2 separate regions of the Homo sapiens genome follow, and region 2 is linked to region 1. Evidence: fine-mapped expression QTL. A gene starts in region 1. The other region holds a variant in brackets. All regions are shown on one strand. Distances are between the middles of the regions.

Region 1 (16,476 bases):
TTAGTAATGCTAATAACTGTAAGAAGTACTTAAATAATTTTCTATACAGTTTTTAAGTACTTTTCCCAGCAGCATAACAAGTATTTTTTATCTAGAAGAGACAGAAAAAATAGTCCCTGTACTGTAGACAAAAGACAGTTATTACTTTTTCCAGGGTTGTTTATGTGGATGGCAAATAAATGTCCACTATGTATAGTTTCTTGCTCAGAAATATGAAAATTAAAATTTGACCTCTCAGAGGTCAGAGATTCTATCTGTTTTTTTTAGAAGTTTAACATTGGGCTCTAACACAGTGCTAGGCAAATGCAGGCATTTAGTTAATATTTGTCATATTCACCTGGAGAGTATTATGGAGCTCATCTGGAATACCATAATAATTTCTTAACCTTGGGTTTAGATTTTTAAATTTTTAAATCACATTTTAGTGAGTTGGTCCCACGCCTGAGAATTCCCTGATTTTAGAGTTATTACTCATTCGCTTCTTCCTTTTTTTTTCTGTCTATTGAATCAAGGTTGTGGTGTGACACAATGGTTAGTGCTGTTTAACTTGGTACATTCTTAATTTTTAAACCTTACAACATGGATTTGAGTCTCAGCTTGACCGCTTACATGCCATGTGGCCTGCTGTGAGTCACTGAGCCTCTCTACGTTTTTGTTACCTTCCTTTTAAACCAGCCTTCTTTCTTAAAGCAACTGAGATGAAATAAAACAGTAATTGTGGAAATTTGTTGTAGATTATAAAGCGGAATTCATCTTTTTGGGTTTTTTTACTCATTCATTTATTGATTTCACTAAAAATATCATTTATCTAATTGGAGAGATAGACAAGTCAACTGACAATTTCAAGACTGTGTCATGAGTGCAAGGTGTGGAAGTAGTAATGGCACCGGGTACTGAGGGGCAAAGAGTAAGAACACTCTATTAAGGGTCAGGAAGGGAGCCTCTGGGAACACACAGTCTAAGCGGAATCCTACAAGCAAAGATATAGAAGTAAAGGAAAAGATCATCCTACAAAACAAAGAAGCAATATGTGAATGCTTTAGTAATGGGAAACGTTATCAAGTAAACATTTTTGGTGAACGGTATTTGGGTTAAAGCAAGAGAAGTCTGGAAGTCTGTCTAGCTCTGTTACACACATTGCTGGAGGACATCAAAATGTGTGCATTAAAGCCCTTGAGAGTACAAAAGATAAAATCTATACAAAGGAGCCAAAAGACTGATAACAAATGCAATATGTGAACTCCAACCTGAAAGTTTGTTAACCAGTTGGCTTTCTACTTTATCTAATGGCAAAGATTATTTCTTCGACCAAACTTTAATCAAATTCCTCTGAACCCTCTTTTTGACTGGGCCTTAACCTTGGCCTATGAGAACTGCAAATTCTTAGCCCAAATGATGATGTCTACCTCCCTTTGTACTAAGAGGCTTGAACAAATGTTACCACAGTTTCTAATACCTCAAGAACATGTTCCTGATGACCCAGCCCCTGCTTAAGTTCCTATCTGAAAAGCTCAATGCTACCTAAATAATTTACTATTTACCTGACTGTAGACCCATGACCTCCCATTTCTTAGAGCATTTACTTTAGAAAACTTGCATCTATAAATTAGCAAACACAAATGGCCTAACCACAATGACCAACCTTCCCTGACATCTCCTTTAGTACTTTTCCTTTAGCACATGATATGGTTTGGGTCTGTGTCACCACCACATCTCATGTAGCTCCGATAATTCCCATGTATTGTGGGAGGGACCTGGTGGGAGATGACTGAATCATGGGGGCGAGTCTTTCCAGTGCTGTTCTTGTGATAGTGAATAAGTCTCACAGGATCTGATGGTTATAGAAGTAGGAGTTTCCCTGCACAAGCTCTCTTTGCCTGCTGCCATCCATGTAAGATGTGAGTTGCTCCTTCTTGCCTTCCACCATGATTGTGAAGCCTCCCCAGGCATGTGGAACTGTAAATCCAATAAACATCTTTCTTTTGTAAATGCCCAGTCTTGGGTATGTCTTTATCAGCAGCATGAAAACGGACTAATACAGTAAATTGGTACCAGGAGTGGGGTGTTTCTGAAAAGATACCCAAAACCGTGGAAGCAGTTTTGGAACTTGGTAACAGACAGAGGTTGGAACAGTTTGGATGGTCCAGAAGAAGACAAGAAAATGTGGGAAAGTTTGGAATTCCCTAGAGACTTGTTAAATGGCCTTGACAAAAATGCTAATAGTGATGTGAATGATAAGGTTCAGGCTGAGGTGGTCTCAGATGGAGATGAGGAACTTGTTGGGAACTGGGGCAAAGATGACTCTTCTTATGTTTTAACAAAGAGACTGGTGGCATTTTGCCCCTGCCCTAGAGATTTGTGGAACTTTAAACTTCAGAGAGATGATTTAGGGTATCTGGCAGAAGAAATTTCTAAGCAGCAGAGCATTCAAGAGATAACTTGGGTGCTCTTAAAGGCATTCAGCTTTTTAAGGGAAGCAGAACATAAAAGTTTGGAAAATTTGCAGCCTGACAGTGTGATAAAAAAAAAGAAAATCCATTTTCTGAGGAGAAATTCAAGCCAGTTGCATAAATTTGCATAAGTAGCAAGGAGCCTGATGTTAATCCCCAAGACAATGGGAAAATGTCTCCAAGAGATATCAGAGACCTTTGTGGCAGCCCCTCCCATTACATGCCCAGAGGTTTAGGAGGAAAAAATGGTTCTCTAGGCCAGGCTTAGGGTCCCTCTGCTGTGTGCAGCCCTGCGTTGAAGACACTCCAGTGGCTGAAGGGGGCCATGGCTTGGGCTATGGCTTCCGAGGGTGCAAGCCTGAAGCCTTGACAGCTTCCACATGGTGTTGAGCCTGTGAGTGCACAGAAGTCAAGAACTGAGGTTTGAAAACCTCAGCCTAGATCTCAGATATATGGAAATGCCTGGATGTCCAGGCAGAAGTTTTCTGTAGGGGTGAGGTCCTCATGGAGAACCTCTGCTAGGGCAGTACAGAAGAGAAATGTGGAGTAGGAGCCCCCACACAGAGTCCCTACTGGGCACCACTTGGTGGAGCTGTTAGAAGAGAGCCTTCATCCTCCAGAACCCAGAATAGCAGATCCACAGGTAGCTTGCACCATATGCCTGAGAAAGCCACAAACACTCAGTGCCAGCCTGTGAAGGCAGCTGGGAGGGAGGCGGTACCCTGCAAAGCCACAGAGGTGGAGTTGCCCAAGACCATGGGAACCCACCTCTTGCATCAGCATGACCTGGATATGAGACATAGATTCAAAATATATCATTTTGGAACTTTAAGATTTGACTGCCTTCCTGAATTTTCGACTTGCATGGCATCTGTAGCCCCTTTGTTTTGGCCAATATCTCCCATTTGGAACAGCTGTATTGACCCAATGGCTGTACCCCCATTGTATCTAGAAAGTAACTAACTTGCTTTTGATTTTACAGGATCATAGGTGGAAGAGACTTGCCTTGTCTCAGAGTGTGGACTTTTAAGTTAATGCTGAAATGAGTTGAGACTTTGAGGCACTGTTGGGAAGGCATGATCAGGTTTGAAATGTGAAGATATGAGATTTGGGAGGAGCCAGGGGTAGAATGATGTAGTTTGGCTCTGTGTTCCCACACAAATCTCATCTTGTAGCTCCCATAATTCTCATGTGTTGTGGGAGAGACCTAGTGGGAGATGACTGAATCATGGAGGTGGGTCTTTTCTGTGCTGTTCTCATGATAATGAATGAGTCTCTTGAGATCTGATTGTTTTAAAAATGGGAGTTTCTCTGCACAATCTCTCTTTGACTGCTACAAAGATGTGACTTGCTCCTCCTTGCCTTCCACCATGATTGTGAGGCCTCCCCAGCCACGTGGAACTATGAATCCAATACACCTCTTTCTTTTGTAAATTTCCCAGTGTCGGGTATGTCTTTATCAGCAGCATGAAAATGAACTAATACAGCACACCTCAGCATTAAAAAAGCATCCTGCCTCTGGTTTTAGCAGAATTGAGCTTGGTTTCTACTGGAGTTTCTTTTCTCTATTGGAATAGCCCAGATAAAGTGAGTCTTGCCACTTTTAATAAATATTCAGCTCTGTTTCTCTTTAACACTATTCTACAGGATCATAAGTTTAATGTACTGGTTACTTAAAGAGAAAGGAGCCTACATAAGACTGTATTTTCAACCGTATAACTGTGTCTATACATTTTTACACAGTTTGCATGTGACTGGGTCAATACATACGGTGAGTGTATTGTTTGCTATGGCTGCCGCCACAAAATACCACAGACTGGGTGACTTAAACAACATAAATTTATTATATTTTCACATTTCTGGAGGCTAGAATTTCAAGATCAAAGTGACAGCAAGTTTGGTTTCCTCTGAAGCTTCCTTCTTGGTTTGTAATGGGCAAGTTCCCACTGTGTCCTCATGTGGTTTTTCCTCTGTGTGTGCATCACTAGTGTCTCTTTTGTGTGTCCAAATTTCCTCTTCTAGTAAGGACATCAATCAGTTTGGTCTAAGGCCTAACCTTATAACCTCATTTTAACTTAACCACCACTTTTACTTATCTCCAAATATAGGCACACCCTGAAGTAGTGGGGTTTAAGGCTTCAACATATAAATTTTGGGCAGACAGAGTTTAGCTCTTAACATTGAGTACCTGAGACACATTAGTTACAGTTGTAGGCAATGTGGTTACTACGGTGTGTAGTGTTTAAGAAGCTGGGCTCTGGAGTTTGAATGCCTTTATTACATTGACTGTGATCATTTGCAAGATCACTGCTTACAAGCTGTATGACCTTGGAAAAGTTATAGAATCTCACCAAACCTCAGTTGCTTTACCTGTAAGAATAAAATGATACTTAATCTTTATATTTATTGTTGTACCTAAGTGCATGAAATGTGTTAGCAAATTTTATTTCTTTACAATTTTTTTTTTTTTTGAGTTGGAGTCTTTCTCTGTCACCCAGGCTGGAGTGCAGTGGCGTGATCTTGGCTCACTGCAAGCTCCGCCTCCTGGGTTCATGCCATTCTCCTGCCTCAGCCTCCTGAGTAGCTGGGACTACAGGTGCCCGCCACCACGCCTGGCTAATTTTATTATTGTTAGTAGAGACGGGTTTTTCTTTTAGTAGAGACGGGGTTTCACCATGTTAGGCAGGATGGTCTCGATCTCCTGACCTCGTGATCTGCCTGCCTCGGCCTCCCAAAGTGCTGGGATTACAGGAGTGAGCCACGGTGCCCGGCCTACAAATTATTTTGTAAAGATAATCTTTTTCTAACTTTGCTATAAATCTAACAGTTTCATTCTTCCCTACTGTAAACACACACACACACACACACACATATTACACATATAAAATTTGCAATGCTTTTTTGCTAAAATTAGGTAGACTTTTTTTTTTTTTTTTGAGAAAGAGTCTTGCTCTGTCGCCCAGGCGGGAGTGCAGTGAAGTGATCTCAGCTGACTGCAAGCTCCGCCTCCCAGGTTCACGCCATTCTCCTGCCTCAGCCTCCCGTGTAGCTGGGGCTAAAGACACCCGCCACCGTGCCTGGCTAATTTTTTTGTATTTTTAGTAGAGACGGGGTTTCACCGTGTTAGCCAGGGTGGTCTCAATCTCCTGACCTCGTGATCCGCCCATCTCGGCCTCCCAAAGTGCTGGGATTACAGGCGTGAGCCACCACATCCGGCCGGTAGACTCTTAGGTACTTCAGGATTAATTTGTTATGATTTATTGAAAGACTGTAGCTCCTCAAACCTCTGTTTTCTATTGTCAGGATAAATCCTAGGAGACTTTAAAATGCACTAAATTTTTGAGTGATAAACAGTGTGGGGCCATGGGTCAGGGGTTCAAGTAATATCAGCTATAGGGAGAAGCTGATTGTTGTTTCTAAAATAAAATATAACCCATATGAAAATATTAATACAATTAAAAATTAGACATTGAAATTCCTGTCTTCTTAATCCTAATCTAATAAAAGCAGTAATTATGTCTGTAAATAGCAGGGTCTATATACTCAGTAAACAAACAATGCCCATCCCATTCTATTATTAGATAAAATGAGAGGCTTATCTCTAGTTTCTTAGTCTTTCCAGACAAACAGAAAGGAATTCCTACAGAGAGAGTGAAGTTAGTTGGTAATGCAACATTACCAGATAAGAAGATGAGTAAAGGCTGTTTTCCAGTTAGTGTCTTTTACAAAGGAGAATATAGGCCGGGCGCGGTGGCTCATGCCTGTAATCCCAGCAGTTTGGAAGGCCAAGGCGGGTGGATCACGAGTTCAGGAGATACGAGACCATCCTGGCTAACACGGTGAAACCCTGTCTCTCCTAAAAATACAAAAAAAAAAAAAAAAAAAAAAAAATTAGCCAGGCACGGTGGTGGGCGCCTGTAGTCCCAGCTATTCCGGGAGGCTGAGGCAGGAGAATGGCATGAACGCTGGAGGCGGAGCTTGCAGTAAGCCGAAATTGCACCACTACACTCCAGCCTGGGGGACAGAGTGAGATTCCGCCTCAAAACAAACAAACAAACAGGAGAATATAGACATGTTAGATTGATGGGGGAAAATATTAGAATTATAGAAAAGAAAATAAAAAAATAAAAAAGAAATTATTTCATCTTTTAAGATATATTAGAATATATAAATTTTACTCATGGTCACAACATACCTCTTTTTGCCCAAGTGATTGTGTATGTGTGTCTGTGTGTGTGTGCATGCATAGGGCTGTATCTAGTTTAAAGCACTGTAACGTCTGGATTCTCTTTTTTTTTTTGAGATGGAGTCTCGCTGTCTCCCAGGCTGGAGTGAAGTGGCGCGATCTCGGCTCACTGCAAGCTCCGCCTCCCGGGTTCACGCCATTCTCCTGCCTCAGCCTCCGGAGTAGCTGGGACTACAGGCGCCCTCTGCCACGCCCGGCTAATTTTTATGTTTTCGGATTTTTAGTGGAGACGGGGTTTCACCATGTTAGCCAGGATGGTCTCGATCTGGATTCTCTTTGAACGGTATAAAAGTCTGTGAGATGGCCGTGGGGAAACTCAGAGAAATTAAAGGTATAAAATGTAAGAAAGTGTCAAGGCTGAGATGACCATCCCAGCTAGTTCCTACTGCAGGTTTCTTTTATGACACCAATTTTGGCTGGTAAAGAAAAGATAATAACACCTAATTGGCTGCCTCACAACACTGCATAAACAAATCAAAAGAGCTAATGAATGGCAGGTTGTTTTGAAAGCTGTGGAAGGTGATCTAATCATAAAAGACTATAGTTATTTATTAACTATTATCGTCATCAAGGCTCCCTCTGTGTAGAAAAACAGAAGACTTTAGGAATGATATGGTAACTTTATATTTTGGAAATAACCTTTGTTTGTAGTAACATTACTGATCTACAACAATCTTTATAATTTTCTCATTTCCTCCCCCTGTATCAGTATCCTTCAGATTCTGCCAACCTCATAAATGCGTAAGGTTGTAAAATTCATAGTTTTTATTATCTAAGCCCACTCATTTCTAATGAGAGGAAAAAAGTTTCTACATGTTTGATGAATAATTGAAAGAGTTAAAAACAAGGATGATATTTTGAGTTAGAAGAATACCTTGATAACCTAACTCTGACCCAAACCTGAGTTCTCCAAACCTTCAATCCCATTCATTTAAATGTAATATTCATGGTGATTTTCAGGAATGAGGAGTAATTAACAGAGCATGTGATGAATCACCTCTGGCTTTACAACATTCCTAAAATGAAATGGAGAAGAAGCCCTAATGAAATGAGCCAGCTGATGAGTACTTCCAATTTTGGGGGTGCTCACTGAATCTTCTTTTTACTACTTTCTCCATTTGGAAAAGATATCAGTTTCAAACTTTTTATTCATCATTTCAGAAAAGGCTGGCATCTCTGAGGAGCTCTTTTCCAGTAAGAAGGAAACCAATGTCTTCAATGTTTCCTCATAGTAGAGATTCCTAAGACAGGCAATCATCTTTTGGTTCTTCTGTTCCACCCTAGCACCACTTCCACTCCTGGGAATATTCTCCATTTGGGCTAGGCTAGGGGTCACTAGAGCATAATACACAGTCATTGATTCCATTTTAAGGCATCAAACTCTTTTACCGTCAATAACAGAATATATGGTTGGGACACATTTCGTATGGTCTGACAGGGCAGATGAAAGATAAAAAATTAGTATTGATATGTGAATATTTAGAAGAGGCTTTTAGAGAAAGAGACAAGAAATCAATGCTGATTGAAACAGAGCAATGGTTTTCGTTAAGTTTTAACAGGTGATGTTTCGATTTGTTTAGGCATTATGGTTTAAAATACAATTAAAAGGGAAAAAGAGAACATATATCGTTATAGTTTAATTTCACCTCAAATTGTGTTGGGGTAGTTTTTCTATGCTGAGTAAATATAAATCTATTGGTGAAATCCACAGTCAACAGATGTTTACTTTTCTTGGTATCTTAGAAATTATCTAGTACAACCACGTTATTATAATTATGTAAAAATGCAAGACCAGCTATCATTAACTATCAAGCTTATCACATAAACTTGATAATTGTTCTAAGCACCTCTCTCTCTCACACACACACAAACACACACGCATTATATATATGATTTATCTCTAAACCTCTTAGCACTAGTACAATGTACGTGTTATTATTTTTATTTTACATATTAGGAAACTGAGGCTTAGAGAAAATAAGTGACTTGTCCAAGGCAACATGGCTAACAATTCAAGATTTGGACCCATTTCTAGCTTGCTTCAAAGCTGGGTTCATTTCTATCCCTACATAGTTGAAAAGACTACATAGAATAGAAACAGATTTCTGAAACCCTGTCTCATTCTCTTTCCATTAAGCTATGATGGACTTTGATTTTCTAACCTGTAACAATAATGGAATTTGAACTTGCTTTCCGTGGTCACTAATTTTACTATTCCATTGGAAAGGAGCCAAGCTACAACAATAGTGCAGACCTTGAAACCAATGATTTTATATATATATATATATGTGTGTGTATATATATGTATGTGTGTGTGTGTGTGTGTGTGTGTGTGTGTGTGTATATCTTTTTTTTTTTTGATGGAGTTTTGCTCTGTCGCTGAGGCTGGAGTGCAGTGGCGCCATCTCAACTCACACACCCTCCGCCTCCCGGGTTCAAGCAATTCCCCTGCCTCAGCCTCCAGAGTAGCTGGGACTACAGGTGCGTACCACCAAGCCCATCTAATTTTTGTATTTTAATAGAGATGGGGTTTCACCATCTTGGCCAGGATGGTCTCGATCTCCTGACCTCATGATCCGCCAGCCTTGGCCTCCCAAAGTGCTGGGATTACAGGCGTGATACACTGTGCCTGGCCCAGTGATTATATTTTTATAGGAAATAAATTATTTCATGAGAGAAAAAAGAAAGGACGTATTATCTCACTGTGATAAATCTCATAATATTGGCATACTCCCTAAGTTGGGCAACTTTGATCAGTTTTCTGGAACCATCATAAAAAGGCCTTTAATTGGATAAAGTCTCGAACTTTTCTTCTGTGGATGTGAATATCTTGAGAAGTACTGGAATGAAACAATTTGGCTCTGGTTTCAGTCATCTTCACATGTTTCTTCAGGTGCTTTCTTAAGCTATTAGGGCAAAATAAGCTGGTAGAAAAAAGGTGTTACTTGTAGGATGAAAGAAGCAACTAAAGAGAAGAAACTTTCTCTAGAAAAATGTTACATTTACACATTTATAATTGTTAACAACTTTTTTCTTCTTTTCTTTTTGGGAGACTAAATAATGGGATGATACAGGAAGAAATATGATTTAGAGAAAACTGATTGAGCCAAATTTTTCAAACGGTAATATGGGTAATCATAGGCTATGGAAAGTTAAACTGAGTCTCCAATGTTTATGATTATGATGTTTGGCTAGGATATAAAATAAGGCTTCAGAATATAAAATATCCTGCAGATTGAGAAGTTTTAAAAGTAGTTACATACAAGTTTTATTTTTCCAACGTTCCTGCCTTTTCTAATGTCTAAGGATGAAGCAGTGTACAGAGAGGAAAGAATGTTATATGTGTGGTCTGCTTGCAAGTGCTGGATGCCTCCTCTGCCTGCTCCAACTAAACTGTCTGCTTATGAGAAAGTCATTGCTCCTCTGAGTTCCTGCCTCCCTATATATTCAACATTAGAATTTTGCCAGGTTATCTTTTAGGGTCGTTCAACTCTAACATATATATGAGTCTGTGACACTGAACTCAGACACTTCAGAACAGGAACCCTGGATTTCTCTGGATGTGGAAATCTTTAAATCTATACCTGACTGGTAGGACAACCAATCTGTCTTCCTTTCCTCTCCTCTCCCACTTATGAAGGGAGTCCAGTCAGAAACATGTTTGTCTACGAGGTAGTATATCTGGTATTTCTGAGGAATTCGGTTATTATATAGGATTATAGAATATTCAACTTTGAGTAGGGTCTGTGGACTCCATCAATTGCGTTCTGGGGGAGGTACCATGAAAGAACATTCCTACTTTAGAAATAGATATTCTCTGTTCAAACCTGACACCCTGACAGGATCCTAAAGGATGGAAGCTAAAGTGGTGTGGTATATAAGTCCCATGACCTTGAACAACTGGTTTTATGTGGGTGTCACCAGTGCTTTATAAAAGTAAACTGCATCGCCCCGAGTTCAGTCATACTGCACCAGCTGAGCAATGCATGGAGTGGACCTGTAGGCGACTTGCATCGTCTTCAACATGAAGATAGCCACAGTGTCAGTGCTTCTGCCCTTGGCTCTTTGCCTCATACAAGGTGAGCAATTTGTGTGTAATCTAAGCCTCTTGCCACACATCTCAAAGCCCTGGGGAAGGGACTTTTCTCCCCCTACTCCTGCCAAAAAATGTTTACGTATGCATGTATAATCCTGAAATGTCTTGCCAGACACAGAGTTCTGAAGATTTATATATGTGGCTTTATAATTATGTTGTTATCTTTAGAAATGGCAAGTAGTTTGAGATAATCTGAATTTTCTAACCATGAGAAATTCTTCCATTAATTCTTTATTAATTCAGAAAACTGAATAGATTCTTCTTCATCTTCCTCTTGCTAAATGTATCAATTCATAATGCATATTCTTATATATGTAATAGACATTTAAAACTTAATTGTAAATAATATATGTATTTTAATGTTATAGGTATAAATGAAATATTTTTTAAAATTCAATCATCTGTTCTTATTTTAAAGCAGTGGTATCTTCTAGCTTATTTTAGTCTTGTGTTTTCAAATGCTAAATGGGTTGAAAGCATTTCTCCCAAAGAGTGAGGGACTTTTGTGGGAGCTGGAAGGTAGATTTTTATATTTGCTATTTAACCCTAAGAGAACACAAATTGCCTAGACTTACGTTGCTCTGAAACATTAAAATTTTTAAAAAGAGAAACTCATAGATAGTCTGAAATCATATACAAATAATGCCCATTTTCCTAAAATAGGTGTGTAGGTACAAAAGAGCCTATGTTAATGAGAGAGTATAATAGCCTGTGACCTTAATCTTACCTTCTGTCAGATCTCTAACTTTTGCAGCTGTAATAAGGAGGTAGAGCTGCCAGAATTCAGAAAATTAAATTTTATGTATATATCCTATAAATGTAATGCTATATTATAGTTTCAACTATAATATAGTTTCAAAATTATAATTGGTATAGTATTTTGTGTGTATGTTATATTGTAATTTTAAAAGGGAGGCTGGCATTTATTACTCCGAAAGGACCTTTTGAAGATAAGCTATTTTGATGGGGTTAGAATTCACATGAGTATTATTTTCCAAAGTAATTGTAACTTTCTGAGTGATTAGACCTTTGTGAGTATATATACTAATCTCCTGGTCCAGTGCCCTTCTTTTATTTGCCATGATAAATCTTAATGTGTTCAAAAACCATTTGCGGTTTTACAACATATTGTCATTAAAGCAATCAAGATGCTGCATTAAATGGATTATTTGTTTTGTTTATTAAATATTTTACATTTCCTTAACTTTGGTTTCTATATTTTCATCCCAGATGCTGCCAGTAAGAATGAAGATCAGGTTAGTCCTGCTTTTTCTGTTCATTGAATTCATTCCAAGATTCCCAAAGAAAAGTGGTTTGTGGCCAACACCTTCATGTTAATAATACAAACATATTATACTGGTAGGTACTAATAGCTTTTGTTAAAAACACAGAAACAGATTTTTATGAATCAGGACATGAGCCTCTCTCTCACACACACACACACACACACACACACTCAACATATTAATGATGATGGATGTCTGCAAGAGGCAATTTATCATGTTAAAGGAGCATTTTAAAATTTCATAAACAAAAAATAAATCAACTGGAAAACTACTATTGTTCCATTTAACATCTCAACAAGCCATGATACACCACATAGGAAGCTGAAATAAATTTTCTAGTAATCATTATGCAAAAGAGGGTGGTCTGTATCTTGTATATAGTCGGTGTATATAGTTCATGTAATGAATATTTATTGAGCATCTCTTAGATGTCAGACCCTGTTTGAGATGCTGGGGTTATTTTTAAGTAAACAAAATAGATGAAATTCCTGCCCTGAAAATTACGTTTTAGTGTAGGAAAACAGACAAATTAATAAGTAGCTTAGCAAAACATATGGTACGTTAAATAATGATAAATGCTAGGAGAAAAATAAATCAGGAGGCATAATAGGATCCCTGAGAATGGAGGTGGTATCCATTCTCATAAGGATAATCAGGGAAGTTCTCTCTGGACAGACAGTATTAGAATAGGAATCTGAAGGTCATAAGGGAATGAACCACGAAGGTATTTGCAGTTTACAGCAGGCCAGACAGAAGCACCTGTGAGCGCAGAGGCCCTGACGCAAGAAGGTGCTTTACCAACTCTTAAACCTCTTTTGTTTGATAAATTAAAAAATCATTTTCTACTAGAAGTTAAATTTTTTAATCTATTTGAAAGATAGGATGACCAATTACTCACACACACACATTTTATATATTTATATACACACACACTGCTATGCATGCTATTAATTCAGCACTTAAAGCACAATCTTAAATGTTTTGCTGAATATGTGGCAAAATTTGTTTTATCTCTGGCCACGAACATTAAAGGAATAAAAATGTGAAACAGCTATTCTTTACGTTGAAACTCTGAGAACCATGGTTAAAATACTCTCTTGCCGTATTTTGTTGCAATGATTTTTTTTAAAGAAACTTCTTACATGAGTGTTCTAGAGAATTTTATCATGTTCTCTACTATTTCATCTAAGTTTACTGATAGGGAGAGGTCCAGAAAGTTCAGTAGAGTAGAAAATAAGCTAGACATTTGGGAATCAGAGAGCATGCTCACTTGGAAGTTTTATACTGGGAAAAAAGAAGGATATTATATAAATATCATTGTGTATAAAACCATCATTTTCTTTTTCAGAGTCCGTGATGATGGTTGGTGATTTATGGCAGATACTGTGAATTTTACACTGCTATTTTTCATAGCATTAACCTCTATTTCACTGAAAAATATTTTAAAAACAAATTTAGTGACTTCTTATATTTGGTATTAAAGGCAAGAACACAAAGAAGTAATTATTTATTTGGAAGCCTTTCTAATCAGAGTTTTTGGATACTGTGTCAGAAATGAAAACTATTGATGTAGTCTTTTTTACGATGCTGTGATTTTGGTTATTTTCCAAGTTTAGTAGCTTGGGTTCCTTTCAGCATGATAAAAGCATGTTAAATGTCATAAACATGAACCTAAACAGCAGGGAAAAGCACTGCAGCAATCTGCAAGGATCTTAAGCATGCTTAAATTTGTCATCACCTAAGAGTCATTCTTCAGGCAAAAGCAAGCTGGTCAGTGCTCTAACACTGAGATAGGGCAATGGCAGCTCCTGGAGGGTTTTATTATAATATCTGGAGATGGACAATAGAAGACAACAAATTAGGCCTCAGCCAGTGAGGGAAACAGGAAGAACTTGGCCCTAGAGGGCTCCAGTTTTCCTGGGACATGCTGAGAAAAAGAGAATAACAGCAACAGTAACAAAACAAAACAAAAACAGGCCAGGGACTGGAAGTTACCCTGCAAGTAAACAGGTGCTGAAAAGTCATCTACTCAACTCAGGATGACTTTTGGTCTAAATATGCTTCTGTTTCAACCCTCTCTATTATGGTCATTGAAAGGGTATTCCATTTTGCTCAGAGAAAAACTCAACTGCTGCTTTCCATTTTTATGGTCTTTTCCTGTTTCCCAAGAGAATACATTGGATAATTTCATAACTCAGAAAAATAGCATTGAATCTCATCTTAACTAATTAATCACTGTGAACAAATTTCTTAACCTATTATTTGGGCCTCTGATGCTCAGTTTGTAAGAAAGGGAGTCTTTCTAGGAATTAAGTTCTCATCTAACAGTGATATTGGAGAAGTCCAATTTAGGGATTATTCTTATTGATGCAACTCTTTAATTTTTCTTATAAGTAGAGACAAGGTCTCATTATATTTCCCAGGAGGATCTTGAACTTCTGGCTTCAAGCAATCCTCCTCCCTTTGCATCCAAAATTGCTGAGTTACAGCCATGAGCCACTGCACCTGGCCTGATGCTACTCTTTTATGATAAGCTTTCAAAATTATTTAGAGCTTTATTCCAGGATTATCATGAGTCGTCTATATACTTTCTATAAGACTTACTTAATAAGGGATATATTTTCATTACAAAGACCCCAGGCTCTTCTCTGATTCTACTATATGGATTTTAGGATCAATTATATTCATCAAGGTAAGCATAACTTGCAAAGTTGGCATTTGATACTGTAGAATCAGAGATCAGACAGGTCTCAAGATGCCCAGTTATTAATCTGTGTCCAGAAATTACTACTCTGCTACTCTGATGGAGTCACTGTGTAGCTATAATAATCTTAGAGATATTTAAGCATGCCATCCTTAGCTAAATTTCCCAGGGCTGGTCTGTGATATCGTTTAGTTATTCTCCTTCACCATTAATCATTTTGCAAGTGCTACCAACTGCCTACCATTTTTAAGAGGCTAGATTAAGTACATCATTATTCATCCAGGCAAGTATACTTCTGTTCTACCTAATGCTGTATCTATGTCACCTAGCAAAGTATAGTAATCCAATAATAAGTGATTGCTGGCTCATTCAATGATGATCATAAAGATATAGGAGACTACTGGAGTTCAAGACCAGCCTGGGCGATGTAGTGAGACCCTGCCTCTCCAAAAAAAAAAAAAAAAAAAAAAAAAAAGAAAGAAAGAAAGAAAGAAAAAACAAGCACAAAACACCAGATATAGATATAGGAGCCTAAATAGAAACCTTTAATAAATTTTTTGGAACAGGTTGTGTTTGTCAGAGTTGAAGCAAAAGCTTTGTTTATTTGTTTCCTGATACAAGCAACTTGAAGCAGATTAAAAAAAATCAAAACAAAAAACAACAAAAATCCCCTTAGATTCCAAAGGCCTATTCTAAAGACCTAGTGAATTTTCACTGGGTACAGTGGCTCATGCTTGTAATTCCAGCACTTTGGGAGGCTGAGGCAGGTGTATCATTTGAGGTCAGGAGTTCGAGATCAGCCTGCCCAACATGGTGAAATCCCATCTCTGCTAAAAATACAAAAATTACCTAGATGTGGTAGCATGCACCTGTAATCCCAGCTACTCAGGGGGCTCAGGCAGGACAACCTCTTGAACCTGGGAGGTAGAGGTTGCAGTGAGCCAAGATCATGCCACTGCACTCCAGCCTGGGCGATAGAGCAAGACTCCATCTAAAGATAAATAAATACCTAGTGAATTTTCTAAATTAAAAGGGAATATAACATTTTAAAATCATACTTTACTAGGTAGCAGAAATGCACCATATTTTAAGCTCCTAAAAAAGAATGAGTGATGTATAGCAGGACTTTAATAATAATATTTAATATTATTTATTAATATTTAATATTGAATGAATCAAAGAATTACCACTTTTGAAGATCATTCTACTTTCCTTTTCCCCACCAATTCTATTATTTAAAATGTTTCCCCTGTCCTCCTTAAACTTTGTATAACGGAGTTATTGGTATTTACAAAACCAAAAGCCCAAAACAAACATAGTAGGATTTTAGTTCCAAGGGATGTGCCAAAAAAAAAATTACCAGAGAGAGAGAGAAAGAGAGAGAAAGAGAGAGAAAGCCTTATGCAATTATTGAGAAATTTCCTCAGTACTTCCATAGATTCACAAGGTTTGATTCTGATGGTAGTGATAGTAGTGCTGATGACATTTGTGGGGATGGTGGTGGGGGTGGAAGTATGGGTACTTTCTAAAAAATATAATACAAATTTGAAAATGCAAAATGGTTAGGCCTCTCCCAGAACCTCGGAAGGGGGATGTGACAGTGAAGGGCCCTGAATCTTAAGCTTTATTAGCTTTAAGGTAAGTCTGCCTGTGCTCATAAGTCAAATGATTTATCAAGGGACATGAAGTTCTTT
Region 2 (17,153 bases), 22 kb before region 1:
TTGTACATATTTTCCATCTTTTTACATTTAATCTATGTTTTTATGTTTAAAGTGGATTGGCTATAGATATTATATAGTTGAGTCTTTGCTTTTTTATTAAGTCGATTTCTGCTTTTTATTCAGTAAATACTGCCTAAGTGAAGTATTTAGACCAGTTACATTGAAGGTAAATATTCATAATACTGGATTTGGATCTATTATCTTACCATACATTTTATAATTTTTTTTGCCTTTTTTTGGTCCCTTTCCTGCTGTCGTTGGATTTTCTTTTTAATGATTCCATTTTATCCCCACTATTGGCTTAATAGTTATGTATCTTTTAAAAATTTGTAAGTTTTATTTTAGTGTTTACAATATATGTCTTTAACTTGTACAGTCTACTATTAAATATTATACCATTCCATTTAGTATGTAATAATCTTACAGTAGTATACTTTCACTTTCTTCCATCCTTTGTGCCATTGTTATATATTTCACTCCTCCATTTGATAAACCTCAAAATATATTTAACTATTTTTTTAGAGCCTCACATCTTTAAAACATGTTAATAATAAAAATAATGTTTACATTTGAGTTTGGGAGTTAGTAAAAGTGGAATCTCATCTCATTTCATTTATTTTTAGTCCGGGTATCCTTGACCGAACTTGATGCTTTCCCACATCCTTGAAAAAGAGCTATCTCTTCCTTTCTATTTATAGCAAGATGTTGAGATGATCACTGAGACCTGCAAAAAGATTTGTATTCCTCAACAAAAATCTTTTCATAAATTAATGAACTTTTATTTATTGCTGCAATATGTAATTTATACTTCTTGAAACCTGTCTTTGGAAAAATTCCAATGAAGAATGAAATGCCCCCTTTCAGGGGGCAACTTATGATTTATTAACCCAGTGAGACTAACAAACTAAAATTTTATTAATGCAGCATAGTTGCCAAAGTATATAGAAACATTCTATATATTCTATGTTTCTGCTTTGTGAGATTTTAGTAAACATTCTAATCTAGGAGGATTTGGTGATCAAATGGTTTTAGAAAATGCTACAAACTTTATTTTCCTGCAGGAATTTCATTTAGCTGAATCTCTTTGGTCTAGGAATATTTTTTAGCACTTAAACAGAAGTTCTGCAGACAAGCAAAGTTACTTAATTTGCTTAAACTAAAATTGGCAAACACATTGGACTCTAGAAAGCTTTTTTCTTTTTTTTTTTTTTTTCCTGAGACAAGGTCTTGCTCTGTCGCCCAGGCTGGAGTGCAGTGGCGCGATCTTGGCTCACTGCAACCTCCACCTCCCGGGTTTAAGCGATTCTCTTGCCTTAGCCTCCTGAGTAGTTGGGATTACCGACATGTGCCACCACATCTGGCTGATTTCTGTATTTTTATTAGAGATGGGGTTTTGCCACGTTGGCCAGGCTGGTCTTGAACTCTAGGTCTCAATTGATCCACCCACCTCAGCCTCCCAAAGTGCTGGAATTATAGGCAGGAAACACTGCACCCAGCCTAGAAAGCTTTTTTCTATTGGTACAATTGTAAGTATCTCATTTTTTATTGAATGTATTTTGAGGATTACTGATTTAAAATATTCAAATGTTTTTCATTTTTATCATTCCTAGATTTAGAAAAGATAAATAATTTATATTTAATTCTATCTACCTTATTCACCCCCTTAAAAATCCATTGAATGCCTGCCATGTGCCAGGCATTGTAATTTATACAAATAATGGTATTACTGATCTTTGAGTACAGATTATCTGGCTTCAAACTCAATATTGGTTTTACTTTGCTTTATGCACTTTATCACAGGGGCCTCCATCGAAACTTATTCATAATACCAGATATTTCCAAGGCATTACAGCATGGAAATGTAAAATCTAATTCTAGCTCTTTCCATATTATATGATCTTGAGAAAACTTGCTCTCTGCTCGGTACCTCAATTTTCCTTGTCTCCAATTCTAAACGTAATTCTAAATCTACCAGAAAAGCATCTCTAGGTATTATTCAATAAAGAATGCAATTCAGACAGGAATATAGGCAGGTTTTTTTTTTTCTTTTCATTAATGCATGCTCTATATACATTAAAATTTGCAGATCTTAAGTATACAATTTGATAATATTTATGTAAACATGTATCTGTATAATCGCCATTTAGATCCAAGTGTAAAACATTTCTATTGCCTCAAAGTTTTCTTTGTGCCTCATTATGGTCATTGCCTCTTCCCCCCAGACACAGACATTGCTGTTTGAACTTCTATTACTATAGGTTTGTTTTGTCTGTCTGGAAGTTCTTATAAAGGGAATTATATGCCATATAATCTTTTGTGTCTGGCTTCTTTCACTCCATATAATGTCGCTGAGAGTCATTCAAGTTGCTACCTAGTGTTTTAATGCCAGTAGGACTTCAGTTTCTTAACCTATACAATGAAAGGGATTGGGCTAGATGAACTCTGAAGATTTTTTGAATTCTGAGAATGAGAGGCTCTTTCCACTGTTTTGCAATAATTAACATGCAGGAATTCTGACCTGATTCAGTTGCCATGATACCATGACAATATTGGGAATGACAGCTTTGAATGTGTCATCCAGTGAGAGGATGACATTGCATGTCTGGGCGTGGAACATTTTATGCACCTCTGTAATGTAAGGTCAGAAACTTTTGTAGCTCAGGATGACCTTACTGATTTCTGAGCCCTCCCACATCTAGCATTCTTCCCATGTGACATATTAATTGAATTGTCTATATCACATTTCTAAAAGTCATTGATAAAGAGACTTAAAAGAAGACTTTATGCAAAGCTTCTGCCTAATTATGTCTTGGTAATCTCTCTATGTGTAGTGTTTAGGGGTCATCTATGGGATCAGACAGACTCATATTCAAATCCTGGTGCTTCACTTCTATCTGTGAAACCGTGGGCAAGTTGCTTAAATTCACTGAGTCTGTTTCCTCACCTGGAAATGAGGGTAATGATAGCTACCTCACAGTGTTGTTATAAAGAACTGAATGAGTTAATGCATGCAAAGTGTTCATAGTGCCTTGAACTTGAGTACTGCTCAGTCAAGGACAGCTGTTAGTGCTGCAGCTTCTCAGCAAAATCTGTTATCTTGTGCTCCTGCAATTCCTCACTGAAGTTCCCTTTCTGGGACAGTCCTGTGTGTTCACATTTGCTGGGACAAAAGTGAGTGTAAGCAGTGAGTAGTGAACAGCCACAGGATTTTAATCAATCCTGTGAAGAGGGAAACTTTCCATAGAGAATGAACTGGGGCAGTTAAAAGAGAATGAGCAGTGACTGGAGGATGGAAGCCTTGGGTTCTAATGACTTCCTTAGTCAAGAGAAGTTTCATGACCTTGATTGTGGCACTAAATCTCTTTAGAATAAACTAAATAGTGTAACACTTTTGAGCAGTGATCCCCAACCCCCGGGGCCACAGACTGGTATTGGCCCATGGCCTGCTAGGAACTGGGCTGCACAGCAGAGGGTGAGCAGGGTTTAAGCAAGTGAAGCTGAGCTCTGCCTCCTGTCAGATCAGTCATTAGATTCTCATAGGAGCATGAACGCTATTGTGAACTGTACATGCAAAGGACCTAGGTTGCATGCCCCTTATGAGAATCTAATGATAAACGTAATACACTTGAATCATCCAAAACCATTCCCCCCCCCAACCCTTGTCCACAGAAAAATTGTCTTCCACAAAACCGGTCCCTGGTGCCAAAAAGTTTGTGAATCACTGGTTTAGAGAACAGTTGTTCATTGGTATCTTTGGGGGATTGGCTCCAGGGCCTCCCCCATATAAAAATCTGCAGATGCTCACGTCCCTCATTTAAAATGGTGAAGTATTTGCATATAACTTAGGCATTTCTTCCTGTATACTTTAAATCCTCCCTAGATTATTTATAATACCTAATACTATGTGAATGCTATGTAAATAGTTGTTATACTGTATGGCTTTGAGAATAACAACAAGAAAAAAGTTTGTACATTTTCAGTACATATATGCAATTTCTTTTTCAAATATTTTTTATCTGTGCTTGGTTGAATCCACAAATGAGGAACCCCATAAACATGAAGAACTGACTATATGTGTTTCTGGTTCAAACTCTGTTCTGCCACTTACTCTCAAATCCTTCAAACTCTCCCAAAGGAAGTTTTTCCATATTGGAAAGCAAGATAGTACGGAAGTTAAGAAAATGAGTCTGGATTCAGATGAATTGGATTTGAATCCCAAAGTTGCCATTAACAATGTGTAAAATCTCAGACAAGCTAATTTATTTCTCTATTCATTGGTTTCCTGATCTGTAAAATGGGTTGTTGCAAAGATAAATTAAGAATACTTTTAACAGTGCCTGGCACAAAATAATTAGTCAATAAATGTTAGATATTATTCACAAAATAGGTATCATGCTACCTCTTCAGATTACTGAGGATACTTAAATGAACTAAGGTTAAATGACCAGAACAAATCTTAATTATTATCAACATTGTAATTTATGAAAACATGGCTGGAGATGTAATGAGATTTGAGGCAAAATTGAGATCATCAGGAGAAAATTAATAGATTTACTATTTCTTAAATGGAAAAATAAGAAAAATGAGTGGGAGAAGTTATATTTATGGTTTATAATACCTATGAAAAGAATGCTTTTATTTTTGCTCTGAAGTAGGAAAAACTAAATATAAGTTCTCAACTCAGCCAATAAAATAATAATAACATAGGCAATAATACTGATAACAATAAGTTTAAAATGATATTTTCATGAAGTAAAAACCGAGAGAGAACATGCAATTCTTTCTCAAGTGAGGTCCTTGCTTTGTGGAGCTTCTATTCTGGTGGGAAACACAAATAGTAGAGAAGTAAATAGGTTAACAAAAAGAAGACTTCAGACAGTAATTATTGTATAAAGAAATGAAAATAAGCCATTTCATTAAAAAGCAACTGGTCTTGGGGATGTAGTAGAGGACAATCTGCTTTAGATTTGGTTGTAAAGAAAAGTCTCTCTGAAAAAATAATATCTTAAGTTGAGCTGTGTATAATAAAAAGGAACCAGCCACTCTCAAATCAATGGCAGGGGCTTTCCAGGCACAAGAAGCACCTGCTATAAGATGCTAAAGTGGAAGTGAGCTTGGCACAGTTGAGAGATAGGAAGGGGACTGATCATAGCAGAATATTATAAGTGAGTGGAAGAAACAATAGTACAAGTTGACATTAGAAAAATTTATTTGCAACTTGTAGGCCACAGCTGGGAGTGTGGACCTAATGCCACATGTGAAGTTTGATGGAAAACCATCAGAAGTCTCTAGGCTGGTTGTTTACTTAATCTCATTTATTTTTTAAAAGGCATGTCAGGCTGCTATGTGAAAATCCAGATAGTGGCAAGGAAGCTAATGAGGAGGCCAGAGCAGCAGTCCGTGTGAGAGATGGTGGTGTCGGTTTCTGTGAAGAGATTCATGTTGTAGAAGAAGAGTCAATAGGACTTACTGAGAGATTAAACAGAAAGGGCTCATAAGAATCCTACGTTTTTGGAGATGGTATTGAAGCTGGAGACATCTTCTAAGCTAGGCTGTGGTAATGGAATGTTAGAACTGGAGGGTTGATAGGCTGAAGTCTAAAAAGCTGCATGATAGATATCCTATGCTGAATTTTGCCATTTTTCTTTGGGTGTATGTTTAAGTTTCTGTTGTTATTTTGTTTTATTTATACATATATATATGTTTGTGTATATATACTTAATTTTAATTATTTAATTATGACATAGCTATCGTCAATATCCAGAATTTATATATCTGTAAACAGAGGCAAGAAGAGGCAAAATAACTTATTCAAGTTTACACAGTTAGTGATTAACTATATGACCATTTAAGATATTTATGGACCCTCCATATTGCTCTTCCAAAAGGCTGCACCAATACACACTTTCCCTGCACCATATAAACAATGCTCATCTCCACAAACTCTCCCAGCATTGCTAGTGTTTTTCTTTTTAAGCCTTGTGAATCCAAATTGAATCCTCTTTCTGGTCATTAAGGACTGCGGGCCTTCTCTTTGGCTAATTTTGAATCTTTTGGGAGGGAGTCGGGAAGAGGATTATCAGAGAGAACAAGAAATGAAATAATAATAATAATAACAATAATAATATTGAGAGTTTATAATTGCCAGGAACCATTCTAAGCACTATATACATATATACATGCATATACACACATGTATACATATATATACACATGTATATAAGTATATATGTATATACATGTATACATATATACACATGTATATACTTATATATGTACATGTATATACTTATATGTATACATGTATATATAAGTATATACATGTATACATATATATACACATGTATATACTTATATATACTTATATACATGTGTATATATATGTATATAATACTTAGAATGGTTCCTGGCAATCATAAACTCTCAATAAGTATACTTATTTATACATACATATGTGTATATATACTTAACTTTAATTATTTAATTATGACATAGCTATCATTAATATCCAGAATTTATGTATCTGTAAACTGAGGTAAGGAGAGGTAAAATAACTTGTTCAAGTTTACACAGTCAGTGACAGATGCAAAGCTAGTCATTTACCTGCAGAATCTGTGCTTTTAATCATTATCTGCTACTGACAACCTACAAGACATCTGGTTGGTGAATGTTTCATTTACACAAAGAAAACAGTGTAAGATAGTTTATGTGGTTCAGGTATTAGAAACTCTAGTAGTTAGGAAAAAATACACACAAGCTGAATAAGTCAGTATTGATTTAGTTAGGATTTGATTGAAATACTGAAAGGGAAAAACTTTCTCTACTCTCTGTGTTTCTGTTCAGGTGTCTTCATTATCAGAATATGTGTGGCTTAGCCAGAAAAACCATCATCCTCATTATCACCATCACTACCAACTCCTGAGTGCCTACTATATTCTGGGCCCTTAGCTATAAGCACTGGAGATATTATGGCAATCCTGGAATTACAATCACTTTTAAAAGGGGGACTAGATTAAGTGAAAAGATCCCATTGGTATGAAGTGGTAGAGTCTGTATTCAAACACAGTTTGTCTCTGTCTAACTTTAAAATCTTTACTCTTCCCAAAGTGGTAAATGAAGGAATAAGAAGACAGATTCATAAGCCAAGATGGTGTCAAAGACAAAGAATCACATAGGTTTACAAATATTTAGACAGTAAGCAATAGCAAAATTATCTGGACTTTGAAAAGCAGAGATGAATAGAAAGATCTTGATTCTAAGGCGGGAAGGAGTCACTGGAGGATTTTTGTGGATAGAAGTCACAAAGTAGGATTCGTGTTTGGAAGGAACTATTAATAGTTACCACTTACTGAATACCTATGAAAGCCTAAGAATTTTCAAATATTTAATATAATAACTTTATGAAATAATTTAATCTCACTTGAGGCTCAGAAATTTTAAGTAATTTGCTAATGCTTTCATGGTTGGTAAAGAGTGGATTCAGAACTTAAGATTCTGATCTAATTGGAAAGCTGATGTTCTTGCCTTCCTTGCTAATAAATGTTATAGGGATATAGATCAGACAACACTGCCAGATTTGAGAGTGATGGAGGCTGGGCAATGTGACAGCAGCTGGCAGCAACAGCCAATATCAATTTCATTTCACATGAGGGGACATATAGAAACTCATAGTTTTTCTGGTTGGCTTTTTCTTTATTTTCCTTGAAAAGGCTATAGGTAGTATATTCTGAAATTCCCTGAATTTTCTAGCAGTATGTTGGAATGCTTGAACCCATCTTTCTTTTTTTTTCAGTGTAAGCTTGGCATATGATCAAGAAATATGGTTTTTAAGTGTTTGGGGGAAGAAATTACATCAAAATTGAGAGGTGTTAAAGCTTCAATTGGGTCTTGAGAGATAGGAGACATTTAAATGAGATGTGATGAGAAAATTGATGACTTAAAAGTAATTAATTAGCACATATGGATATTTAGAAGGGGAAAGAAATCTAGGGCAAGAGTTAGAATATATGTGGTTTAGCCTCGACTATGACACTTCCTAGAAATTATGTCCTGAAATTAATTCTTTGGAGCCATCTTTTCTCAGCCACGAAATTCCAGTAAAAATATTTCACAGAGCTGTTGGAGTTATGAATAATTAAGTTGAAAATAATTTTATAGTATCTGGGACTAATATTAATGACAAAATTTTTTTGGAACAGGCAACATCCACAATTTTGAATACATTCTAGGTATTTAAATTTTTAAATGTTAGGAAGACAAGAAAATAAAAAAAATTCCTTGTCAACAAAAATTTGTCATCTTTGGATACTCTTTTAGGTATTGTGGTTACAGACATGTATAAGACATTGAGTCTGCACTGTTAGATACATAGCTATGAAAAGAAAAAGCAGTTCATAATTTAGTAATTAAAATATTGTATTAAATGGGTGATCTAGTTGACACATGTGTCCTAGAGGAGGTTTGAGGAGAGAATGGTTCCTGAAGCCAGGTGGACAGAGAACTTTCCTTGTAGCAGGTGAAACTGCTCTACTTCAACGTTAAGGGAGTAGGCAGATTCCTCAACTGATACTGTGCTCTTGTAATAACATTGCATCATAAAATTGGGAAGAAAATGATGGATCAACTAGTCTTTCTCCCTCATTCTACAGATAGGGAAACTGAGGCTCAGAGAGTGCAATTTTCATATAGCGTAACTTTTTTTGATGATAAAATCAGTACTCAATTCTAAATATATCTGACTTCCAAATCATTGTGCCTCACCACTTTAACCAGTCTATTATTACATTTGTCATAGCAACTGTTATCATCAATGAATGTTTGAGTAGGTAGATAAAAAAAGATAAGTATAGATGGATATAAATAGATATATAGATTTATAGATATGTTTAAAAAGCACAAGCTTGCAGTATTCTTTTAAAGCAACTTTGATAATTTTTCATTTTACTTTTTTTCCAAATTATTATTTGTACAGCTGGACTAATTTCCAGTAAAATTGTTTACTGCAGTTGCATTTTAAAATGTAGTTTGTGTTAACTTTTACCAAACTTTTAATAAAGATATATCCATATCGATGATGCACAATTGACAACTCTTTCCACTGATTATATTTTCTAATTTATGGAGGTAAGTTATGAAGAGTTTACTCCTCAATTTGGCATGCAAGGATTTGGCCACACTCAGTAAATATTCAAAGCAGAATAGTTAGCCAAGATGTTTGCTTCAATATAACATTAGCCGAGTATATTAACTTCCTATAAAGAGGAGATTTGCTAACAGAAAATATCAGATAGGAAAGCCATGAGAAATAAAGCAGGATGAGCCCTTATGATCCGTGTATTGTTTCCTTTGCATTTTGGACTCAAATTTTTTTCTAAGCATGTCTATCATTATTTTTATTCACCTTTGTTACAGTCTAATTAAACTCTGCAATATCACTTTCCCCCCAACTATTCTCCTTTGAGACTTACCCACATATCTGTGTCCAGATCATCCATCTCTTAAGGTTTTTGTCAAATTTTATTTGTCCTATACTTTTTTTTTTTTTTTATCTTTCAGCTAGGAGTAAATTCCCCCATTCCAAATTCCCATGGGACTTTATTTTTTGGCAGTTATAACTTTTCATTTCAAAGTAGGTTACACTAGGGATATGCCTTCTCCATCTTATTATATTATAAGCTCCTTT[A/G]GGGCAAGGTTTGTATCTGATTCATTGCCAGTAACACCCACAGAACTTTGAAACTGATACTAAAAAACTACTGAATCAATGAATGAGTAAAGGTTTTTGATAGAGGAAATGAAAAATGAGAAGTGGATTTTAAAAATGAAGAAAGGGATGGCAGGTCTGAATAACATGTTCAGTGCGGAAACATACAATTCTTCATAACGTGAGAAACATTCAGCTGATATATGACATACCTCAGAGCAATTGAATACAGGAGAAAACATGGCAGGGAGAAAGTGTTCACAATTGTCATTACTGTGATTTTCAAACTCTTTATATATGCCTTTTTCCTTTTCACCAGTTAATCAATATATCAATAAATATGTACATACCTCTTTGCATGTCCTTAGTGTGCTAGATCCTGGATAAAAACTGATGATTTAAAAAGTTATGCTCTTTGAACTTTCAATAAAGGAGAAGGCTGGCTGAAGCACCCTGTTCTCATCTCTGCTTAAACACATAACACTTCTATTTATTATGTATATTATGGTTATATTCAAGGTGTTATTTGAGCACATTTTATTGCTTAAACAGTAAGTTAGATATATTAAAGGCAGAAACATTGTAAGTCTCAGAGAAAGACCGGAAGACTACTAGAAAGGTTCTAAATGAGCAAGCAGAGAGCAAGTTAGGAATGTAAGCCTTGGAACCCAAGTTTGAGATAGACCATGGTTGTAAGACTAAAGAGTTAGAAATACAAATAAAGCTGTAAAATGTGACAAACTATGGGTCTCTGAGTAGCTTGTTAAAGTTTTAGCATAGGTGGGAAGCCACTCAAAGAAGAAAAGAAAGGGTTTAGAAATTAGATCTCAGAGAAGTTCAGCTGTAGAGATGCTAGAAGACATAATAATGATCGGAAAACTTAGAGGAGACAGGTAGAAAGACCAAGGTGAAAAATCCAGTGCTGTACATCATTTGAAATGGTCCTATCTCTGGCTGAAATGGGTAATTGATGGATTCAATGTTTTTTGAGGGGCATTCTGCACTCACTAGAGTAAGGATTTGATTTTTAAAATCAGAGATGAGAAACTGGCCAATCTAGTAGATTATTCAAAAATAAGTGTTGGCTGGGCCCAGTGGCTCATGTCTGTAAATCCCAGCACTTTGGAAGGCCAAGGCGGGCGAATCATGAGGTCAGGAGTTTGTGACCAGCCTGGCCAACATAGTGAAACCCTGTGTCTACTGAAAATACAAAAATTAGCCAGTCATGGTGGCAAGCGCCTGTAGTCCCAGCTACTCAGGAATCTGAGGTGGGAGAATCACTTGAATCCGGGAGGCAGAGGTTGCAGTGAGCCAAGATGGTGCCACTGCACTCTAGCCTGGGCTGCAGAGCGAGACACCGTCTCAAAAAAAAAAAAAAATTGTTACTTGGCTTTTTCTATCAGTACCTATATCCCCTCTAAGTAACATATCAGAGTCCCTTCTTTCAGAATTGACTGTCTGATCACCAAGATAATGAACAAAGCTTTGAAGCTAATTCTGGTTATTAAGCAGAGAAAAGAGTTTCTTTCTTCACTTCTCTATTAACATTTCAAATGGGATGATTTTTTTTTTTCGGGGATAAGGGTTTGTCCTGAATATTGTAGGGTGTTTAGCAGCATCCCTGGCCACTATCCACCAGATCCCATAGCACCTTCACAGTTGTGACAACCAAAAATGTCTCTAGACGTTGCCAGATGTCCCCTGAAGGGCAAAATTGCCGCTAGCTGAGAGGCAATAAAATGGAGCAAAGCTAAGAAAAATGCAAACTGGAGGTTAAACCCATGATATAAAATGCTGTATATGAGATGAGTGTGTTTGTCCCCTGGAATTCAGGGTGATGAAACGAGTCAATCCCCAAAATCGGACATGGTGGAAGATTGAAAAAGAAGCTGTGGTTTGGGAAAACCACCTAGGACCGGGAGTCAGGAGAATATGAATGAGTTCAAGTTCTTCCACTTTCTAGCTATTCTTGAATCAATGACTTCCCCTTGCCAGAGCTTCTTAATAAAATGAAAGGATTTAAATATGCTCTACTAGAATATACTGCAGCCCATTCTAGGTCAAAGGCTATGGTAAGTTTGTGACTCTTCATAAATCTATACTTGGTTCTTTGGGTACTGAACTCTCTCTAGAACTAGACTCTCAAGAAGGCTGAGTGTGTTTTCTTGTCAGAGCCCAACTAACAGGTTTTCTGTCTTTCTTTTTTCCTTGTCTCACAAGGTTCATTTCTATATCCATCCTCACTACTTAAAGAGAAATGGAGGTAGAAAGTGTGATCTGGCAAAGTCAGCTCTTTTGCCCTAAAATGATAGTCATTTTTCCCCTTGGAAAAGAGGCCTTAGGCTAAACAGTTTCTCTGGAGTAAGCACTATTTTTTTGAGCTCAGAAATATAACCTAAACGGGCAAGGAATCAAGAGTAAACTTCCATGGGAATTGTAGAGCCCAGGTCTCTACATACGCCTCTCTTAGAAAACGGACGTCAGAGGATATTCACTGTTTCCTCCATAAGTAGGCTGCCATTTTCCCATTGCATCACAGCTTTAAGATGAGAGATTACTTTGACTCCCAAGCTTTGTTTTCCAGTTCAGCTTCATGCATACCAGCTAATTAGGCAACATGACAACAGGGTGGAGCGATACTTGTATTCTGGATGTTTCCACACCCACAGTGGATTTGGCCTGGTGCCGCTGCCAGCCACCCTCAGAGCAGTGGCATCTTAAAATGCAACCACACCCAGACACCAACAAATTGTATTTTTTAAAGATTCATGTTAATGAAAAATTGTATATTATTGATTAATCTGTAGGCAAAAAAGAAAAGTGTCAGCTCTTTCTTCCCTTTTCTCATCCTCTACCTTTTTTGAAATTTACAGATACAATGAGCTAGCCATGTAGGTGAGTATACGTGGTGAAGGCAGGAGTTGAGGCGGCTTGACCCACACAATGCCAATTTGGACTAACCCAGGCTTTTGGCATATCAGGAACACGGGCTAGCTTTTGCTTGGCGCCTTAGAGCTTGTGGAGTACGTTCATTTACAGTTTAATTATATTTTCATGACAAAACTGATATATAGGTGGTATTATTTATATTTTATAAATAAGAAAAATGGGCTCAGATATAAATAAACGTGTCAAAAATCACACACAAGTTGAGGGGCCCAGTTTTGACCCCAAATCTCATTCTTTTGTCACTCTTTTCATAGCTATTTTCTATGTAACTTAATGGTGGAATGTTCTGGTCTAAGATGTCATCAATTAATTCTGTATATATTGAGTGCTATTATGTTCCAGGTACTGCTACCTGCAGAGGCAATATTTTTATTACATTGGCTGATATACTCGACAAGTACGGTTTAATTGGTCTGCCTTCTTTTTGTCTTCTTGTTTCATTTCCCAGTGTGCCTCACCTCATGAGTAATTTAGGAATGTAATCTGTGCTCACAGTCTTGCTTCAGCTAAATGTGAGGGCTGGAATTAAAACACAGACTTCCTAACTCCATAACAAATATCATTTTGAATACAATCATGACCTTGCTAGAAAGTTAGAGAAATAAGAGGGATTGATAACAGCATGAAAGGACATTTTTTTTTTCAATAAGACATTTCTTCTCTTTAAAGAAGAGAAGATGTTTGAACATTTAAGAGCTTTAAATGAGCTGTTTGGTTTTCTGAACTATTTGAAAAGTTGTCATTTTTTCATGACTCAAGTGACCTGTCAATCCTTCCAGCCACGTGTGGCTATTGTTCATTGAAGGTGAACCAATTCCTTCCAAAGACGTCACCATTTGTAATACAATAAACTGTTCAAAGGAAGGGGCACTAACAAGTAAATGATTTCTCTACCCTGGAGGTTACTAATTTGTACCCTTAAAATTAGGCACGTTTTTTGGCACTTCCCACAAAATATTCAGCACTTCAAGAAACTTAGAGGTGAATTGCCCCACTATGATCTCTTGTTTGATGTAATCAACAGGCTAACAATTAAAAGACTTCTAATGATAGCTAACATTGAGCATTCCCCATGTGCCAAGTATCATCTAAAGGCTTTACAACATGAATGAATTAACTTAATCCTTGTGACAATCATGATTACCACCTCTCAGTTTAGTGGTGAAGAAATTGAGATAGAGGGTTTAGGCAAATTGCCCATCCTCATACAGCAAAGAAGGCAGAATTTGACCCCTGTAGCATTGCTCCAAAGCCAAACACTGAATTTCTGAATTATGCTTCCTTCTCAAGAAGGCTTGGCTATGTATAGCTTGACTGTTACCAATAATAGATGCTTCAGCTCTGTAATGTAATCATCCCGATCTGCTCAATGGTCTTATCAAGGGGATGATACTCATGGTGATTTGCCTGAGGTCAAAGTGTTAGCTTGTCACACATTTCCAAAATGTCACTGGTCTCTGTATGGTGCAGACTGGAGAAGTGATCTCTGTTGACGCACTGTCTGGGTCAGTCTGGAGAAGACAGTCCAGGAAAATCCCGAAATACAGTCATACCTCAGAATAGACCAGGATTGATTTCCAGGACCCCCGCACATACCAAAATCTGCAGGTTCTTAAGTCCTGTAGCTACCCTACTCAATTTGATGTGATAAGTGAGTCCTTGGTATAGGCGGTTTTGCATCCTTCAAATACTGTATTTTCGGATATGCCTTTCGGTGAAAAAACTCTGTGTATAAATGGACCTGCGCAGTTCAAACCTAGGTTGTTCACAAGTCAACTGTACTTTACTTTGGAATTACGGTGTGGGTGTTTTAAAAGGATAACGATCACGCTTCCTCTCCATCAAAATAAATCATGACGTTTGTAGTTGAATCATATCAGGGAAAGGTGTCATTGAGGGTGTAGGCTGCTTATTTTTAAACTTGAAATAACTAGGAAATGCACTCTATTTGTCTTAGCCCTCCTATCTTCGTCTGTAAATTAAAGGAAGGAGGTGTGCTAGATGAATTTCAGTATTCTATCCAGCCCAAAAGATATATATTCACTTAGTTAAAAAAAATTCATTTTTGTTCTTAAAAATAATACCTAATTTGTGCAGAAAATTTATCAGGCAAGAAAAGTAGGAAGAGAAACATTAAAAAGTCATAAGTAATTCCACCCATCAGAGATAACAAATGTTAAGATTTTTTTGAAAACCCATTTCTGTCTCCCTTAACACAGACATATATAATGCTTTAAAAATAGTATGAAATGAATATGATTTTTTTTTCTAAAATTAGGTTTACTGAGATACATTTTATAAAAGCAAAATTCACAGTTTGGGTGTGCAGTTACATGACTTTTGGTAGACAAAATCACTTATGCAACCACCAGCAGAATGAAGATATAGAGTATTTTCGTCACCCCCAAATCTCCCATGTGTACCTATGTAGTCAGTCCCCTCCCCTGATCTCCAGCAAATGGCAATCACTGTTCTGATTTCTGCCCCTAAAATTTGTCCATTTACAAATGTCCTATAAATGGAATCCTAAAGTATGTAACATTTTGTTTCAGGCTTCTTTCACTAAGAATAATTCTTTTGAAGTTCATCCATGTTGTAGCAGGTATAGTATTTCTTTTTTAAAATTCTTGAGTAGAAATTCATCATGTAGATGTGCCAGTTGGTTGACCTATTCATCAGTTGTTGTACATTTGGCTTGTTTACAGTGTTTAGTGATTCTGAATCAGGTCATTATAAATATTCTCTTATGGGTTTTGTATAGACATATGTTTTAATTTCTCTTGAATAAATAAGTAGTGTTAGATTGCTAGGTCATATAGTAAGTGTAGGTAGGATTTTAAAATCCTCTTTTGTAAAAACTTGTTTTAAAAAATATTTTGTTTCATAATTTAAAAAAATATTTGTTTTAAAAAAGATTTACAGGAATTTGGAAGATGGTACAACAATGTTCTGTGTACACTTTACCCAGTTTCCTCCAATAGTTAAGTCTTTTTTTCTTTAGATTTTCTTTGTTTCTAATTCATTTGACTCACAAAATAAATGGGTGCTAACTACAGCAGTTATAGTGATATTATTCACACTACACAGAAGAAACCTTGGGTCATTAATTGATAACATCAAAACCTCATTCACCTACATTGAACTTCCAGAATCTTCTGTACCAACTGCCTAAAATACTAAAAATGTAGAATACTACAAATTAAAGATGAATACCTTGGTAGGCATGAATGACCGAAGTAAAACCAAGATTTATAGAGAGTCAATTAATTAAAAATCTTCCACAAAGAGAAGCCCACAGCCACATGGCTTAACTGACAAATTCTATTAAATATTTAGTGAAGAATTAATGTCAACTCGTCACAAACCCTTCCAAAAAATAGAGGAATACTATTGGGAACACCTACCAATTGATTCTGTGAGGCTAGTATTACCCTAATACTAAAGCCACACAAAAGCATCACAAGTAGACAAGTATGAATAAATATCCCTGATAAACACACACCCAGAAATGCTTAAAAATGCTAGTGAAATGAGTCTAGCAACATATAAAAATGACTGTACACCATGACCAAAAAGGATTATTTTATGAATGCAATGTTGACTTAGCCTCCAAAAACCAATCAATGCAATACACATAACTAATAGGATAAAGAACAACAACAAAAACATCAAAAACAACAAAAAGATCTCTTCAATAGACACAAAAGAGTGTTTGACCAATCCAACACCCATTTGTGATTAATTAATCTAAAAAGCTTCTGCACAGCAAAAGAAACTATCATCAGTGTGAACAGGCAACCTACAGAATATGAGAAAATTTTTCCAATCTATCCATCTGACAAAGGTATAATATCCAGAATCTACAAGGAACTTAAACAAATTTACAAGGAAAAAAAAACAAACAACTCCATCAAAAAGTGGGTGAAGGATATGAACAGACACTTCTCAAAAGAAGACATTTATGTGACAAGCAAACATGAAAAAAAGCTCATCATCACCGGTCATTAGAGAAATTCAAATCAAAACCACAATGAGATGCCATCTCATGCCAGTTAGAATGGCGATCATTAAAAAGTCAGGAAACAACAGATGCTGGTGAGGATGTAGAGAAACAGGAATGCTTTTACACTGTTGGTGGGAGTGTAAATTAGTTCAACCATTGTGGAAGACAGTGTGGTGATTCCTCAAGGATCTAGAACCAGAAATATCATTTGACGCAGCAACCCCATTACTGGGTATATACCAAAGGATTATAAATCATTCTACTATAAAGACACATGCACATGTATGTTTATTGCAGTGCTATTCACAATAGGAAAGACTTGGAACCAACCCAAATGCCCATCAATGACAGATTGGATAAAGAAAATGTGGCACATATACACCGTGGAATACTATGCAGCCACAAGAAAGGATGAGTTCATGTCCTTTGCAGGTACATGGATGAAGCTGGAAACCATTATTCTCAGTAAACTAACACAGGAACAGAAAACCAAACACTGCA

Direction of the effects. Alleles are on the strand shown, and positions count from the first base shown. SD is a standard deviation of normalised expression in the study named.
For the expression in thyroid of the gene that starts at base 10,656 in region 1, G is the low allele of the variant in region 2 and A is the other (large effect, 0.86 SD a copy in GTEx).

What was found. PIP is the estimated chance that this variant, and not a neighbour inherited with it, causes the effect.
Region 2: its variant is the best candidate, but not a certain one, in a credible set for the expression of SPINK5 in thyroid (GTEx, PIP 0.51).

Annotation. Positions count from the first base shown.
Region 1 is chr5:148,053,325-148,069,800 of GRCh38, forward strand. SPINK5 (serine peptidase inhibitor Kazal type 5) reads left to right here and starts at 10,656. Exons shown (of 33, transcript NM_006846.4): 1 at 10,656-10,775; 2 at 12,023-12,048. The coding sequence starts at 10,721.
Region 2 is chr5:148,030,779-148,047,931 of GRCh38, forward strand. No RefSeq gene overlaps it. Among named protein-coding and RNA genes, the nearest start is that of SPINK5, 25 kb to the right of the region's middle. The variant A/G (reference allele first, on the strand shown) is at 9,683.